2 separate regions of the Homo sapiens genome follow, and region 2 is linked to region 1. A link means that fine-mapping ties the variant in region 1 to the expression of a gene that starts in the linked region. Tissue or cell type: whole blood. Region 1 holds a variant in brackets; the other region holds the start of a gene. All regions are shown on one strand. Distances are between the middles of the regions.

Region 1 (8,256 bases):
AATGGCCTGAGAGTATGTGAGACTGGGGACTAGGCCAAGCTCCGCCCCTCTTCCTCATCCCCTGATCTTCCCACCCTGTGTCTCCTGGGCAACTAACACTCTAGCCTGATGATGTGCACTGTGGAGGCCTTGGGTCTACCTCTTGGCACTCGGGCATAGACTTGGCCTTTGAGTTCAGGGCTCATGGGGGGCTTCGGTAGTGAACTTCATTCCTGGGAGGACAGATGGCTGCAGCCTCATTGACAGCAGAGGGAATTGCACAAACCCTGGCTTACTCCAGTGGCTCCTGGACACACTCAACCCCAGCACCATGGGAGGGGGACCAGAGGCCAGCTCTGCAATGGATGGGCAGCTTGTTTAGAAGCCTGTGGTGGTTGCCAGATTGCCTGGTTAGAAAGTTAAACCCCTCCCTCCCTCCCTTCCATTCCATTTTTTTTTTTTTTTTTTTTTGAGACGTAGTCTCACTCTGTCGCCCAGGCTGCAGTGCAGTGACGCAATCTCAGCTCACTGCAACCTCTGCCTCCCAGGTTCAAGCGATTTTCCTGCCTCAGCCTGCCAAGTATCTGGGAATATAGGCATGCACCACCACACCTGGCTAATTTTTTTATTTTTAGTAGAGACAGGGTTTCACTATGTTGGCCAGGCTGGTCTCAAACTCCTGACTTGGTGATCTGCTCACCTTGGCCTCCCAAAGTGCTGGGATTACAGGCGTGAGCCTCTGTACCCAGCCTTAAAAAAAACAAACTTTTTTTTTTAGAGACAGCGTCTTGCTATGTTGCCCAGGCTGGTCTTGAACTACTGGCCTCAAGTGATTCTCCCAAAGTGTTGAGATTACAAGAGTCAGACACCGCACTCGACCTCAAAACTTTGACTTCTCGTTGGACTGATCTTTTCCTAGATGCCATTATTTTATTTATTTATTTTTACTTTTAATTTTTTTAGAGATGGGATCTTTCTACGTCACCCAGGCTGGAATGCAATGGTTATTCACAGGTGTGATCATAGCTGGTCTTGACCTCGTGGGCTCAAGTGATCCTCCTGCCTCAGCCTCCTGAACAGCTGGGACTACAGGTGTGTGCCACCACATTTGGCTTACCATTATTTTAGAAGGACTTACACCTGTCTTGCTATCTGGAGTCTGCAGATTTCTTACCCAAGGTAAGCTCAAGCAGGGCCTGTTGTCTGGAACAAGACCTGTTCAAAATGTTTGCCTTAATGCTACAGTAGTAATGGTGATAGTCAATAGTAGCTTGCTATGGGTCAGGTACTGTTGTGAGAACAGAAGCTCTCAAAGGGGTATTGGACTCTGGGGATGGCTGAAACACTTCGTGGGGGCGGGGGTTGGTGTCCACGAGACCAAATTATTATTATTAATTATCTAAGATGGAGTCTTGCTCTGTCACCCAGGTTGGAGTGCAGTGGCACGATCTTGGTTCACTGCAACCTCCGCCTCCTGGGTTCAAGCAATTCTCCTGCCTCAGCTTCCCGAGTAGCTGGGATTACAGGCACCCACCACCACGCGTGGCTAATTTTTGTATTTGTAGTAAAGACGGCGTTTCACTATGTTGGCCAGGCTGGTTGTGAACTCCTGACCTCATGTGATCCACCCACCTCGGCCTCCCAAAGTGCTGGGATTATAGGCGTGAGCCACCGCGCCCTGCCTTTTTTTTTTTTATTTTGAGACAAGAGTCTCATTCCGTCACTCAGGCTGGAGTGCAGTGGTGGGATCTTGGCTCACTGCTAACCTCCGCCTCTCAGGCTCAGGTGATTCTCATGCCTCAGCCTCCGGAGTAGCTGGGATTACAGTTTGTGCAACCACGCATGGCTAATTTTTTTTGTATTTTTAGTAGAGATGAGGTTTTGCCATGTTGGTCGGGCTGGTCTCGAACTCCTGACCTCAAGTGATCCATCTGCCTTAGCCTCCCAAAGTGCTGGGATTACAGGCGTGCATGATGCCCGGCCTCCTTGTCGCTTTCAAACAGTGCTTCTAGGAGCTAACAAAGAAGTGCCTCTTTGTATGATTCCCCAAGAGAGACCCACCCAGGCAGCACCTAGCCAAGGGACAAAGACCACTCCTATCCAAAAGCCCTTTGATTCAACTTTTTTTTATTTTTTTTTTCTTTTTGAATGTCATGCAATAATTCACAGTCCCAAGCCCACGGTTTTCAAACAAGGTAGGAAAAAAGGAAAAAAGAAGCAAAGGAATCGGTGGTGATGGTGGGTTTTTCTTCTTCTTTTGTTGTTTCAAGCAGGACCAAATGTCAGAAAAAAATGCCTCTTTTCTCAATCATTAATTTTTTTGTCCTTTTTAAAATTGTTTATTGTTATTATTATTTTTTTAAATTGATTTCTGCAGGCAGTAATAGTAGGGTTTGGTATAACCGGCAAGCACTCTTGTGTGTGTCTGAGAACGTGTGTGGGTGTGAGTGTGTCTGGTGGTGGGTGTAGGGCACTGGGATTCTGGTTCCTTCTGGCTTCTTTGCCGCACTCGGCCACCAGCTGTCTTCATCAGGGAAAGGAAAGATTCAATTGAGATGATAAAACTCATCAATAGAAGCTATTTTTTTCTCCCCGTTTTTTCTTTTAAAAATGTTTTTTTTTTTTTTTTTTTTTTTTTTTTTCATGTTCCCCAAAGTTCTCCAAAAATGGCTGAGTTAATTCAAATCCCTTGGCTGTGTGGTTTGTCTGCTCCCTGCCTCCCACCCGAGAGCCCCTGTCGTGGGTGGGGGGATCGGGGCTGGTTGGGGGGCGCCGTGGCTGCCCAGGAGGGTCTCTTTTGGCCGAGGGTCTCTGCGGGACACCCTTGTGGCCCAGCCCTGGCCTCTCCAGAGTCTGGGGTCTCCCGGCTGGCCCTCTCCCGGGCCCTCTGTGCTGGGCCCCCGCGGCCTCTGCGCGGCTCCTCGGGTGGGGTGTGTGCGTGGGGTGCGTGGGGGGCCGGGCGGGCGCCACCTCGCCCGGGCTTAGCACCAATCATCGTCACTCTCGCTGTAGGGTTCGTGCAGGCCCTTCCTGGAGCCCGGCCCGCGGGGCCTGGCCAGTCCGTGCGCCGGGTAGTAGCCGTTGGGGAGTCGCCGGCCGTGCCGAGAAGGCGAGGCGCAGGCCGGGCCCGAGGCCCGGGGAGTCCTGGGCGAGCGCCCGGTGGCGCCCGAGGACGCGTGTCGTACGGGGGGTGGCGCGTCGTAGGCCCCGGCCATGGCCTCCTCGCCGCCCCCGCTGCCCGGGCCATCGGCCTCGTCGTAGTCGGAGCCCCGGTAGTAGCCATGGTGCCGGGGACCCGGGGGCCCCTCGGACACGTGCGGGCCAGATGCCGGCCACCGGGCCCCGCCGTGTCGACAGGCCCTGGGGGACTCGCTCCGGGCCGGGCCTGGGACCCGCCTCTCCATCCTGGGCGAGCGGCCGCTGCTGTGGCCCCCCGTGGGCGGCCGATCTCCGGCCAGAGGCTCGGCCGTGGGGCCTGGGTACCTCCGAGGGCCGCTGGTGGCCGCCCGGCCCGGCCTGGCCACCGCCTGCTGCTGCTGCTGCTGCTGCTGCTGCTGCTGCTGCTGCGGGGGCCCCGAGCCGCCGGCCTTACGGATCACAGGGGAATAGGACACGTGTGGCCGGGGGGTGGAGGGGGTCTGGGGGAGCTGGCGGCGGCCCCGCCGCGGAGTGCTGGTACCAGATGTTGAGGGGGCTGGGCTTCCACTTACGGAACTACTGCCCTACACGAAAATTGAAACAAAGGAAATCAAAAAAAAAGATACAACAAAATCAAAGGAGACACGGGATTGGGAGGAAGAGAGGGGAGCGAAGGGAGAGGGGCCGGGAGGAGAGGGAGGAGGGGGAGGGGGAGGAGGAGGAGGAGGAGGAGAGGGGGGACACAGGACATTGAATGGAAAAAAGCAACAGCCACAGGGAGGAGGGAGGGGAGGAGGGGGAGTGAGACAGGGAGGGGAGGAGTCGAAAACCAACACAACAAAGTGAAAAGAGAAATGAGAAATGGAGTTTTGTAAGTTTCGGGGTTAAAAATAGCAGAAGTTTCAAAAATTACTCACAGGCGTCCAGAGGACAGAAATCATAATTGAAACAAAAACAGAAGCCGGGTTAAAGGAAAGTGAAAGGTCGGGCGGCACGGCCCAGAACTCAAATATGATCCACAACCGAGGAG[C/G]AAGCAGCTGCGGGCGGCGGGGAGGGGGCGGCGGGTGGGCAAGGGGGCTGGGGGGACAGCATAGGCAGCTGGTGTGGTGGGGATCCGTGTCCGCTCCGGCCGCCGGGCACCCCGGTGGCTTGGGGGCAGGATGGGAGGTGGTCACAGCCGGGATCCGGGGACCTTTGCCTAGAGTGGCTGTTGGATGGGGTATCCCCTTCTCTCCTCCCCGCCTCCCGGCCGAGCCCAGCCTGGGGTCACTTGCAGCCGCACCCACCTGCCGGTGCGCCATGTGCTCTCGGCCCTCGCTGGGCGAGCGGGACCAGCGCTGGTCCCGAGCCCGTGCCCGGCCGTGGTCCGGCCGTTCCTGGGCATAGCGGTCCTTGTCGGGGGGCGGGGGATGGTGGTGGTGGTGGTGGTGGTGGTGGTGCTGTCGATGCTTCCGATCCTTGGGCCGGCCCCGCTCCTGGTCCCGCTCCTTCGACGGCAGGTCCCCGGATTGGGTGGTCATGCTCAGGTCTGTCCCCAAGCCTGGGCCGGGTGAGGGTCAGACAGACACACAGGTGGTCGTGAGGGAGAGGTGGGGCAGATGCACACACAGGAGGCCACCTGGAAGGTGTGGGGGCCCTAGAGATCCCCTGAACCGAGGCAGGTCAGTGGGTTGGGGGGAGGGGGTAGTACCCAGGTTCCTGCAGCTGCTGCCTGGCCCCCTCTGTCCCCTCTCCATGGAGGCCTCTCCCTTTCTTCTTCCTTAGTGTCTCCTCCGCCCTGCCTTCTCCTCCCCTCTCCTCTCCTCTGTTCTGCTTGTCCCTGAGCACCACAGGGCTGCCCACCTGTGTCCACATCGGTGTAGCGGCCCAGGGAGCGCTCAGAGGCGCGGTGGCTGCGGTCGCGGCGCCGCTGGTGGTGCCGCTGGTTCTCCTCGGGCGGGACCCGCTCCAGCGAGTAATCGTCCAGGCGTCGGGCCTTGGGGCCCAGCACGGAGGCTGAACGCTTCATGGGGCTGGTGTCTGAGATGGTCTGGGGGAGGGGACAGGCCGGTGGGCTGGGGTCAGCAGCTAGCACCAAGTGGTCCCGGTCCTTCCTGCCCCATTGTGGCAGCCTGGTGGTGGCCTTCGGTGACTGCGGTGTGACCATCCTGGGGCAGGGGCCAGGGGATGCCATGGGGCCTTGGCTCCCCCTGATCAATCAGGGCTCTGGGTGTGGCCAGGCCTCTGAGGGTGGAGCCTGAGGATTCCTCTGTCCCTCAGAGACAGGACTGCTCCTTTTGAGCCCATCCTGGGTTCTGACCAGAAAGATCTGATCCTCACTCTCCAGTCCTGGGGGCCCAGCCACAGTTGGGCAGGCTCAGGCTGGCCAGAGGGAAGCCCTCTCCACATCCAGGGTGCAAACCTGGGAGCCCTGGACTGCCGCACTCATCCCTGCCCCAGCTTGCTCTCCTGGGAGGGTGAGAAGCCTCCGACTGTGGCTGGCTGACCTATGGGCTCAGGACCAGGTGCCCGGCATGGCAGCTTTGGGTCCTCCCGGCTAACGGGGCTGTGCTCGCTGCCCCCACAAGTCTGAGTCCTTCTGGTGAGGCCCAAGCTAGGGAGCTCTGGGTGGGGGTGGGGGATACCCAGGCACTGGAGGCTCTGGGGGCCCACTCTTTTCCCTGGTGCTTCATCCCTGGGTCAAGCCCTGACACACAGGTTTCTCTGCAGCAGGCAGAGGAGGGAAGGAGGGAGATGGGGCAGACGCCCGCCTCCCAGGGTCCAGCCCAGCTGAGCGCTGGTGGCCCTGCTCCAGGTAGGAGCTGCAGGACCAGGGGTTGGTGGTGGTGTCAGGAGAAGAAGCCCCCCAGAAAGAGGTGCAGAGTGGGCCAGGCTCTTGGAGAGCCAGTGTCCTCCGGCGTGGGGGGCCCTGAAGAAAAGGGGGTAGGGGTGAGGATGGGGATGGCCCCGCCCACCAGGGCTTATGGGTGAGGGGCACACACAGGACACCACACACAAGGATTGGGCTCCATGGAGGGGAGAGGGTGCGATTGCCAAAGAAAGGGTGGGGTCCGGGGACGGTGAGAGATGACGGGACTCCCTGGAGGGGGGGTGGGGAGGAAGAGGGGGCCGGAGCCCTGCTGGGCGCTGGGCAGGCGCGGTACATACACTGAGGTTATTCCCACGTGGCCGGCCCCTTCTCCTCTGTCACAGCCCCATGGGATGGTGCACACAGAAAAAACAGAAAGAAGAAAATAAATATAAAAGGCAAGAGGGAGAGTGAGGAGGTGGTGCATGGAGAAGAAGCCAAGGAGGGGAGTGGCACTGGCATCAAGAGAAATCGGAGGGAGAAGGCAGGGAGGAAAAGAAAAGTTAAAGTCCTGGCGGGTGGGTGTCCCAGGCCCCCGGGGCTGGGCGTCCTCTATTCCCATGGGTACAGAGGAGACAGACAGGAGATGCAGACAGACAAATGGCAGAGGCATGGGACCGAAAGACAGGACGGCGCAGCCTCGAGCCCCTGGCCCTGGGCTCTGCCTCATGCGATGCACACCCCAACCCCTGGCTCCGGCCGATGCTCAAAGCTTCCATGTGGTGGCCGTCAGCTGGGCTTGTCCCAACCCTCTCCTGGGGCCCAGCAGCTCGGTCCTGAGGGAGCAGCAGCATGCACGCTGGGTGCTCCCCAACCCACGTTCCCAGCAGCCAGAGGCCAGGCCCTCAGGTGACCCTGGTCCAGCCAGGCACAGCACAGCCTCCTGCCCCGTGCAGACGCCACACACGGCACACGGAAAGCTCGCCACAGCCACACATGCCACGCACCCGGGCCAGGCTCTCACAGCCATGCCCTGTTCTCCTCCAGAGGCGGGCTGCGTGCATGGGCCCCCGCTGTTCAGGCCGGGTGGGCAGCCAGCTATGCCTCTGGGCCCTCTGTCCCATGAGTCCAAGGCAACGGGATCACCTGCAGGTGGGCCTGGCAGCTGGGTGAAGCGGCCACACACAGACACACATCAAGCACACACCCCTGTGCCCCCCAATGACTCCCACAGAGACCAGACAGAAAATACGAGCCCAGCTGCCCCCAGACCCACCCCAGACTCTGCTACTGTATCCTAGGACCTGCCAAGTTCCCATATGCAGACACGTGTGCACGTACATGTGTGCATGTGTGAGTACATGTGCAGTGTGTATATGCCCACGTGCACACACGTGTGTGTATGCAAGCATCTGAGTAGGCGCACAGCTGCACATGTGTGTGCATGTATGTTGAGCATGTGTGTGTGTGTTTGTGTAGGGGTGATCTTCGTGGCAGGTCTCAGCTGGCCCTGTTGAACCCTGCTGCACCCACAAATCTTCCACAACCTCCCCTGTCTGCAGCCTCCAACCAGGGCAGCCAGAGACCATTTTGCAGTGGCCACTGCCCTCTGCCCCAGGGGGAGCACTTTCCTCTCTGTCCTCTGTGAGGGAGGAGGGTCTGCAGGTGCTCCAGGTGTGACCAGGTGGTGGGTGGGGCCTGCAGACTGCTTCAGAGACTGAAGGAGTCCCTACCCAGGCCTGAGTCCGGCAGGGAGGGGATGCACTGGGCTGCTTGTGGGGGGGCCTGGCCCTACCCAGTGCAGAGTGAGGGGTCCAGCCCCAGGGCAGTGGTGAAAGCCCTCACCTGGTTCTCTGCAGGGAGGCGGGGCATGGAGGCAGCCCGGCCCTGGCCTTCCATGGGGAGGTAGTGCTCGCTGTCGGAGTAGCCATCTCTGCCCATCTCTCGCATCTCCACGGACTGCGGAGCAGATGGCAAAGCCAGATGAGCTCTGGGGCCTGACCTCCAGATCCCTGGTGTCTGCAGAGGGAGGGAGCTGCAGGTGTGTGTGTGTGGGGGGCCCAGATCCCTTCCACCTGAACCACCCGGGCCCTGGGAGCCATTGGGGAGTTGGGGGACAGAGGCACCTGAGAGTTAGGCTGGCTGTTGGGCATGTCGGTAGGGGGGCCTTGTTCCGGACTCCATGTGCCCGTCTTCTGGAACATCTCCTGGGCACGCTGGGTCACCCAGGACGGGCTCTCCTTGAGGCCGCTTTCGTGAGCCATCCTGCATGGGGGACAGAGGCCGGGGTAGCAGTGGGCGCTTGGGCAGCTTCCAGAACGTGGGGACCACGGCACCCCCACACTCCACCT
Region 2 (8,000 bases), 300 kb after region 1:
ACTCCAACCCTAGCCCATGAACTTACCACATGGGGAATCCCTAGAAGCTAGCTAGAAAAGCAGAATCCCAGACCCCACCCAAATCCTGCTGGACCAGAACCATCCTGTTAACAAGACAACTTCCATACACCTGAAAGTTTGACAGGACTACAATGCAGACCTAACAGTCAGGAGCTGAAGCAGCACCTCATCATCAAGCACATCTAACATTTCTGCTGCAAAACATACTCAAATGCACACCAAGTAGAATGAATGAAAACTGTAAATTAAGACTTCAAACTGAAGTCAGTTCAGGTTAGGTTTTACCTCTATATGAGCTCGTCTTTTGGTTTTTGGAGCTTTTTGGATTGGGGAATTGTGGATAAGAAATTGCACCCTTTTTGAAAATACTCCCATTGGAAAAGCCGTGCTAAATTTTACTTCGCAGAATTTTGCTCCTCTGGAAATACCAGCCAAGCCGGTCTAGTACAAGGATCACGTAAGTGACACCATCCTGCCCTCTACGGCAGTACCTTCTAGAACATTCTATCTCTCAGGACAGGCCAAGAGTCTGATAACCTGCTCCCATGTCTCCCAGCGCTTCTCATGCAGAAAGTTTCTCTTTAGAGAGCTTTTCTTAAAAAAAAAAAAAAAAAAAAAAATGAGAGGAGTGCCAATCAGCCAATGTCCACAGATGTCAAAGTGATGTCACCTGATGTCAATGTGACTTTAGGTGTCTTGTTAAGATTTCTGCAAACCGGATGAAAAGCTGGAATTCTACGTGTAATTCAGGCAACTGTGCGTGATAATACACTGACCTGCTTCCAGTGTTCCTCCGATGGCCTGAGTTTCTACATCATGTTCAGTGGGAGACCTGGTGGCACAGGGAGGGCTGGAAAGATGACATTCACCTTGGCACTTGGTAGAAGGAGTGAGTGGCATTAAGTGGGGAGGGAACTCTAGGAAGGCTGACAGATGCTCCTTTTTGAGCTGACAGATCTGAGCTCTTCGGCAATCATCAGAGACCCTCATGGCCCTATTTGAATCACAATTCCAGTCAATGAAAACATGAAACCAAGGTGTGTGGTCAAGACGGCTTGCTGCCTGGCATGAGAAAAACACGGCAATGTAAATTTGAACATCAAAGACTTCCATTTGGGTTTCCTCACTTAGGAAGAGGGGAAAAAATGAAATAAATGAGGATTCTTAATTGTCATTGATGGCTTCAAGTTTGACCCACTGAGGGATGAAAGAGGAAGAAATCATAGTGACAAATTGCCCCGAGTGTGGAGAAAGCAAGACTGCATCCTTCACCAGTGTACCATGCCAGAATTTACATTTGGAAGTAGCACTCTTAGGCCCTGTGAGCATACCGACAAGTTCATGGATCATTCACTCACTTCTCTTAAACAAGACAGGGAGGAACCTGCTTTCCATATCGACCTGCAACCCTTAGTCAACACCATTTCCAAATACACATCCCACAACACATGCATCAAAAAGTAGCAGGGGCGATTCCACTCCTATCTAAGAGAACTGTGGGAAAAAAATAATAGAAGACACAAGAATGTTCCCAGTGGCACAAACAGAAATGACACAAATGCCCATCAACAGTAGAATGGATAGATTGTAGTAGAGTCACATACACAGATGTGAGCAAAAGAAGCCAGTGGCAAAAGAACGTACTGTGTGACTCCATTTACATGTTTAAAAGAGGCAAAATGAACCTTAGAAGTCAGGTGAGCGGTACCCTTGTTGGGGGAGCAACTAGGAGGCGGTATGGGGAGGGGGACTTCCAGGGCACTGATCGGGACCTGGGTGCTGGATACGTGGGTGTGTTCATTTTGTAAAAATCTATGCATCTGAATATATGTACTTGCCTGTACATATATTAGACTTTATTTAAGTACCTACACACTTTTTTTTTCACTCTCAGGATATGCTGAAACATTTTTTTTTAATGGCAGAAATATTTAGATTAAAAAGTAGAATGTTCTGCCCTGGTATCGTGACTCTGACATTCCACGTGTCTTTCTCTTTACACTGGCCTGAATTCTTTTATTCACTACCTCCCTCCCCAGGTCTCTGTCCATCCCCTCTCATCTCCAACCCTCCCACCCACCCCGCCACCGCCCTCCGCTCCATCCAGGACAGAGAAAGCTCAGTCCTGGATGACCCAGCTCGATGACAGATTGTGAGGTGGGGAGTTTTCCCTTCCAGAGTAGGGCTGTATAATGTGTTTGTTACCTCGGGTCAAAGAGAACAAAAACAGTCTGCAGAGAGCATAATGCACAAACTCATCATAAGAGCAAGAAAGCCCCGGGCGAGCTGGCCAGAGAATAGATGAAGTGGCAAGCAACACTCGCAATTCACCTGCCTCCCTCTCCCACGATTCCCCCTTCCGAGGGGCCACTGCAATCCCCCTCTCCCCCAACAGCCCTCCAATCTGCAGGATTCAGGCTGGACAGAGGTAAGCTAAGGACACAGCAGAAGGGCTCCCCACCTCCTTCCTTTCCTCTTAGAAGTCTCCAAATCCAGGCTCCAGAAGGCGATCTAAAGCCATTTTCAATGAGGAAACCTGTCAGCCGAGCAAAGCCCTCTCACTCCTGGAGCTAACTGGGTGTGCACCCATGAATACCCTGTCCTCCTGCAAGGCACTCCCACTCCTCACTCTGTTGATAGGCAGAGTAATCAAGCCACCCCTGAGCACTTCAATGGGCCTGGGATGGTGAGGAATTGCTAACCTTAAGAACCAGCCTCTTTAAGAGTCTGAAACTTAGGAAGCAAAGACCTGGCACCTGCTTTGGGCACCAACGGAGATGGCATCGTAGTTAGAGGTATGCTCCCCTCAAAAGCACCTCTGCTGAACTTCTTAATTTTCCCCACCCTCAAAGTAGACCACTCACACACTCCAAAACCTCAGTGCCCTCTGTTGCAATCCCAGCACCCAGGATCCAAGCGCCAGGCTCGATTTTGAACCCCCCTGAAGTGAGTCCCTCTACCACCCGCCATGCTCCTCAAACAGCAACCCCCGGAGACCACACAGGGCCCAGCCCCGTTTAGTCTATAACTGCAAAACCACATACAAAAGGGATAGGGGACTCATCGCTGAGCCCCAGGGACCCATCCAGCCCGTTCATTTTTACACAGAGGGCAGCTGGTTGGAACTGTGCGGAGAAGCGGCACATCTGGGCATGGCACAGTGGCCAGCCAGCCTGGGCAGCAGGGTGTGTCCCCCCTCCTGGAATCTGGGTCATGCTTAGATAACTGCTAGAAAGCCCGACTAATTACCCACCCTTGCCTGCCTACATCTCGATAGATGTTAAGCCCTCCTCAAGGTTTATTTCAAGCAGGCAGGGATTTAAAGAAACACAGAAGATCTGCATTTTGATAGCATCTCCACAGAAGAAAATGTGGGCTTCACCTTTTTCCTCTGGATCTTTGATTAAAAAAAAAAAAATTTAAAAGGCATTTACCTACCTAAGATGTCCACATGGGTGCTGATTCTCCTGGTGTTCCCTCTCGGCTACTCGGGGTAGGAAAAGCTGGACATGGTGCTCTAAAATGGACCCACCACCTCATTTGCTGTTGCCCTGTCTTTCTTACTGAAAGTGTCCAGATCAGGTCTTCCCAGGCCAGGGGCCCAGATAAAGCAAGTGGGATCTCTTTCTCGACACCCCCAAAGATGATGAGGTTCCCCAATCAGCGGTTAAAGGCAATGGGACCTGCACACATGAGGGAAACATAAGCGCCCCCCAGCCCATCACTATCCTCTCCAGATAGGAACAGCGGCCCACCCTGGGGTACTCACTTCGGCCAGTGCTGGCTTCTCAGTGTGAAGGCCACATGGACTCCCTCTTGCTCTTAGCCCTGGGAGCCCCCAAGCGCCCTGCCCTAAAAGTGCGGCGGCCCCCCACCTTGGGGAAAGCAGTAGTGGAGAGGCTGTCCAGCTTCCCCTGCGTGGACTCCAGTGAGCGACGGCCAAGAAAACCCAACCAAGGCCCCCATAGTTCCCCTGCCCTGGCCAGAAGCGCCCAGGCCCGAGCCCGCTCCAAGCTCACTCCGTAGAACTCCAAACCCTCCGGACTTGGCTCGAAAGCCCCCACCAAGGCTCCTGCACGACCCCAGGCCCCAGATCTCATTCTAGAGTCGGTCCTTGGGAAGGATCCACTCTCCGCTGCCCACCCCCCAGCCCCCCACAAACCCATTCCCAAGCCTCCAGGGTAGCTCAACCCAGCTCGGGGTGGAGAGATTCTTTCACACTCCTCCCGGTGCCCCCTCTCCCAGCCCCTGGAAGACCCCCCTCCTCCCCACCTCCCATCAACCCCCGGGTCTCTCTCCCAGCCTGGAAGAGGGGAGGCGGAGGGAGGAGGGGGAGGCGCAGCTGCTGCTGGGGTTCGGGCAAAAGGATATGGCCATTCGGTGATCTTTTTGGCGTATTTTCTCACCACGTTGTCTTCGCTGAAGAGGAAGAGAGACCGGTTAACCGTGAGGCAGTTCTGTCGGACGGGGATGGGGTTGTAGAGTGCCATGGTCCGCGCTCTCTGCGCCATTGACTGCTTGTACATCCTTTGCGCCCCGGGCTGCCCGCCCTGCCGGCTGCCCCCGGCTCCTCGCCCGCCTCCGCTGCCCACGACCACCCCGGCGGCTGCCCCGGAGCCTCCTCCCCCGTAGCGGGCCGGCATCTCGTCTCCGAAGCGGGCCATTCTGCAAAGAGCAAAGGGCTCCGGGTTACGCTGCGGCGAACGATGCGGAAGACGCCGCCGCCGCCGCCGCCGCCGCTGATGCTGAGGCTGCCGGGGCTGGGAGCGCGGCGGCTGGAGCTACGACTGCGGAGACGCTCCACGGCCCAGCCCATCGGGCGGCGGCGGCTCGGCGCCTCGGGTCGGGGGCTCAGAAGGCGGCTGCCCGGGCCGAGCCGGGGATAGCAGCTCGGGACATCTTCCTGGCTGACCCCGGAGAAGGAGGGGCGGGAGGAGGGTGCGGGGGCGGGGCGCGGGGGCCCGGGGAGGAGGGGGGAGGGGAGAGAGAAGCGAGGCAAAAAATAACCGAGGAAGGAATCCAGGCAATCCCCAGTCCACCCACTCCGGAAAAAAAAAAAAAGAGACAGTTAAAAAAAAAAAATCCACCCAACGCACACCCCCTTTAAGACGCGAACGGTTTGCAAAGGACGCCCCCCCCGGGACGCAGTGGAAGCTTCAAATTCCTCCGAGGTCCGGGTCAGGCTGGCATCTTGCAAAAGGAGTGCGCTCGGCCCATTAAAAAAAAATAAAAAATAAAAAATAAAAAAATATATATATATTTAAAAATAAAGAAAGACGAAACCCAGGTCTGGGTGGGGAGGGCAAAAAAAAAAAAAAAAAAAATTAAGTGCCCTTCTGTTTTGCTGGAGTTCCTAGACCTTAAAAATGCTGAAAGATCTGTAGCTCCAAAAATAAAATAAAATAAAAACAAAGAAGATGAAAGGGAAGGGAAAGAGGAGGGAAGGGGAGTAAGACGCTCCAGAGGGTTCCTAAGGAGTCTTCACACCGCAGGGTCCAGGTTTAAAAAAAAAAAAAAAAATTTTTTTTCTTCCTGAATCACCAACGGCTGCCTCTTCTGCTCCCGGAGGAAGTGTGAGTGTGTATGTGCGCACAGCGTTTCGCTCAATGGTGCCTCATCTTGGGGTTAAATTGCAGCAGTGAAATCCTGAAAATTCCCAACAGGGGGAAAAGAGAGAGAGAGAGAGGTATGCGCCCTCCGCTTAGCCACTCAATAGCTGCCCCTGGATGCGGCAATGCCTCTCCACCCTCCAAATCCCTCCACCTCCTCCTTCTCTAGGTTTTGCTAAAATAAGACTGGTGTGGAGGGTTGCGGGTAGAAGAAGGTAAAGAGGAAAAAAAAATGGGCGCAAAGGTCTGAACCACTGGCCAGCAAACGGAAAAGGGGAGCAATTGATGAGTTTAACAGTAGAAGGACCCACCCAGAGTGTCGACACATGAGGGCCCGCGACCAATCGTGGAGGCTCGTGGAGGCGCGGGGGTACCGGGCTCAGCGGAGTTTGTGGGGGAGAGAGGGGAGCGTCGCATGGTTGGGAGGCAGGGAGGGGGGAATTGGGGTGCTTCCTCCTCCCCTGGGAGGAAAGCCTGTTTTCCACCCCGTTCCATTTCGGTTGCAGACAGCCGGACGCTCCCCAGCATCTTGCAAGGAGAAGGCAGGATGGAGGCAGGAAAAAAACTTAAAAGACAGAAAAGAGAAGGGGATTTGTGTCTAGAGGTGCGATTCGTCAGTCTCTAAACAAATTTGCTCTGTTTAGCAAAAGACCATTTTTGAAAGTGGAGAGAGTGGTTTGGGGTTACTTCTGTGAACGTTTCAAATCACAAGGACTCCTGCAAGTTGGAATTAAAGGTTTATTCTACCTTGGAGACCCCAGAGGTGACAAGTCTGAACTCCCAGGAGGAAATAATTAACCAGGTCCTAGTTGGCTGGATAGGGGTTCTGGGTGGTATAGTTTGCTTGATACTCACGTCTCTCCAGAACCACTTTGATTACTTCCCATTCTGCTTTTTGTGTGGTGAAATTCAATAAGCACAAAGAAAAATGCATAAAACATAAAGGTACGGAGTTAAGAAATTGGTCTGAAATGAACACTCATGAAATCAAGTCTAGGGCTAGAAATGGAACATCACCACCTCTGCAGAACCCCCTTTGCCAACACGCTTACACAGCCCCTTATTCCAGCAATAATCGCTACCTGACTTTATGGTATTCATATCTTGCTTTTTTAAAAAAAGTTTGACTACCTTATTATGCGTTCCTAACCAATACAATTTTACTTTGCTTCTTTTGGGCTTTTATATAAATGGAATAATCATATAGTATATATTCTACAGTTTCTTGTTTCTTCGGTTCAACATTATGTCTTTAAGATTCATCTGGCAGGGCACGGTGTCTGCGCCTGTAATCCCAGCACTTTGGGAGGCAGAGCATGAGGATTGCTTGAGGCCAGGGGTTTGAGACAAGCCTGGGCAATATAGCAAGACCCTGTCTCTCCAAAAACCTTTTTTAAAATAAAAATTAACCAGGCATGGTGATGTGAACCTAGTCCCAGCTACTTAGGAGGCTGAGATGGGAAGATCCCTTGAGTCCAGGATGTTGCAGTGAGCCAAGATCAAACCACTGCCCTCCAGCCTGGGCAACAAAGTGAGACTCTGTCAAACAAAACAAAACAAAACAAAAACAAACAAACAAAAAAAACAAGATTCATACATCCTAATCTGTTTCGAATTTTAGAAAAATTCACCTGTTTGTTGTCACACATGGCTGTGATTCATTCACTTTCACTGCTGTATAGTATTTCATCAAGAGAATATGCCACAATTTGTTTATCCATCATCTTGTTGATGGGTATCTGTTTTTTTTCCAGTTGGGGCTATTAAACATTACTGCCTCAGGTACCTTTGGTGCAGATAAGAATGCATGTCTCTAGGAATAGCCTTAGGTGTGGAATGTCTGGGTCCACAAGGTATTCATATCTTCAAGCTTATAAGATGTCATCAAACTGTCTTGCAAATTCAATGTACCAAGAAACCATTGAATTTTCATGGAGCTTGTATACGCAGAAAGGCCAAATGGAGAGGAATGGGAAAAGGATGAAAAAGGCAAATATTCTTTCAAGCCTTAGCTAGTTAAATCCTAGTTAATTCCCTTCCCCCCTCGCCACCCCACACACACATATCAATATTCGAGTTCTTTTGGAACACTCTGGAAAGATGATATGTCTTTATATAAAGTCCCCGTTCTGTGCCAATGCACCAACTATTATACATTGCCCCATAGCACTTTCAAGATTTTCTAACTTGTCACGATATGGATGAAATGATTAAACCAAGAGTGATTGGAATTGCAAGGAGATAGAATTGTGTGGGATTCAGGGAGAAGGAGGGGCTTTTAAGGCGCTCACCAAATATCAGTGATTTTTGTACTTGACATTGTTTCAGATATAAAAGGTGAACAGCAACTAATATGAAACAAGAAGCGAG

The links. PIP is the estimated chance that this variant, and not a neighbour inherited with it, causes the effect.
Region 2: CACNA1A starts here. The variant in region 1 is fine-mapped to the expression of CACNA1A in whole blood (TOPMed, PIP above 0.99). The same link has a PIP of 0.9 or more in NK cells, T cells and blood mononuclear cells.

What each region holds. Positions count from the first base shown.
Region 1 is chr19:13,204,353-13,212,608 of GRCh38, forward strand. CACNA1A (calcium voltage-gated channel subunit alpha1 A) reads right to left here. Exons shown (of 47, transcript NM_001127222.2): 42 at 8,032-8,170; 43 at 7,751-7,864; 44 at 6,265-6,300; 45 at 4,960-5,146; 46 at 4,404-4,657; 47 at 2,090-3,701. The coding sequence ends at 2,961. Among named protein-coding and RNA genes, the nearest start is that of IER2, 58 kb to the left of the region's middle. RefSeq lists enhancers at 3,888-4,157, 4,464-5,364 and silencers at 4,158-4,207, 4,288-4,477. The variant C/G (reference allele first, on the strand shown) is at 4,148.
Region 2 is chr19:13,501,540-13,509,539 of GRCh38, forward strand. It overlaps CACNA1A (calcium voltage-gated channel subunit alpha1 A), which reads right to left and starts at 4,940. Exons shown (of 47, transcript NM_001127222.2): 1 at 4,393-4,940. The coding sequence starts at 4,685. RefSeq lists an enhancer at 5,982-6,508.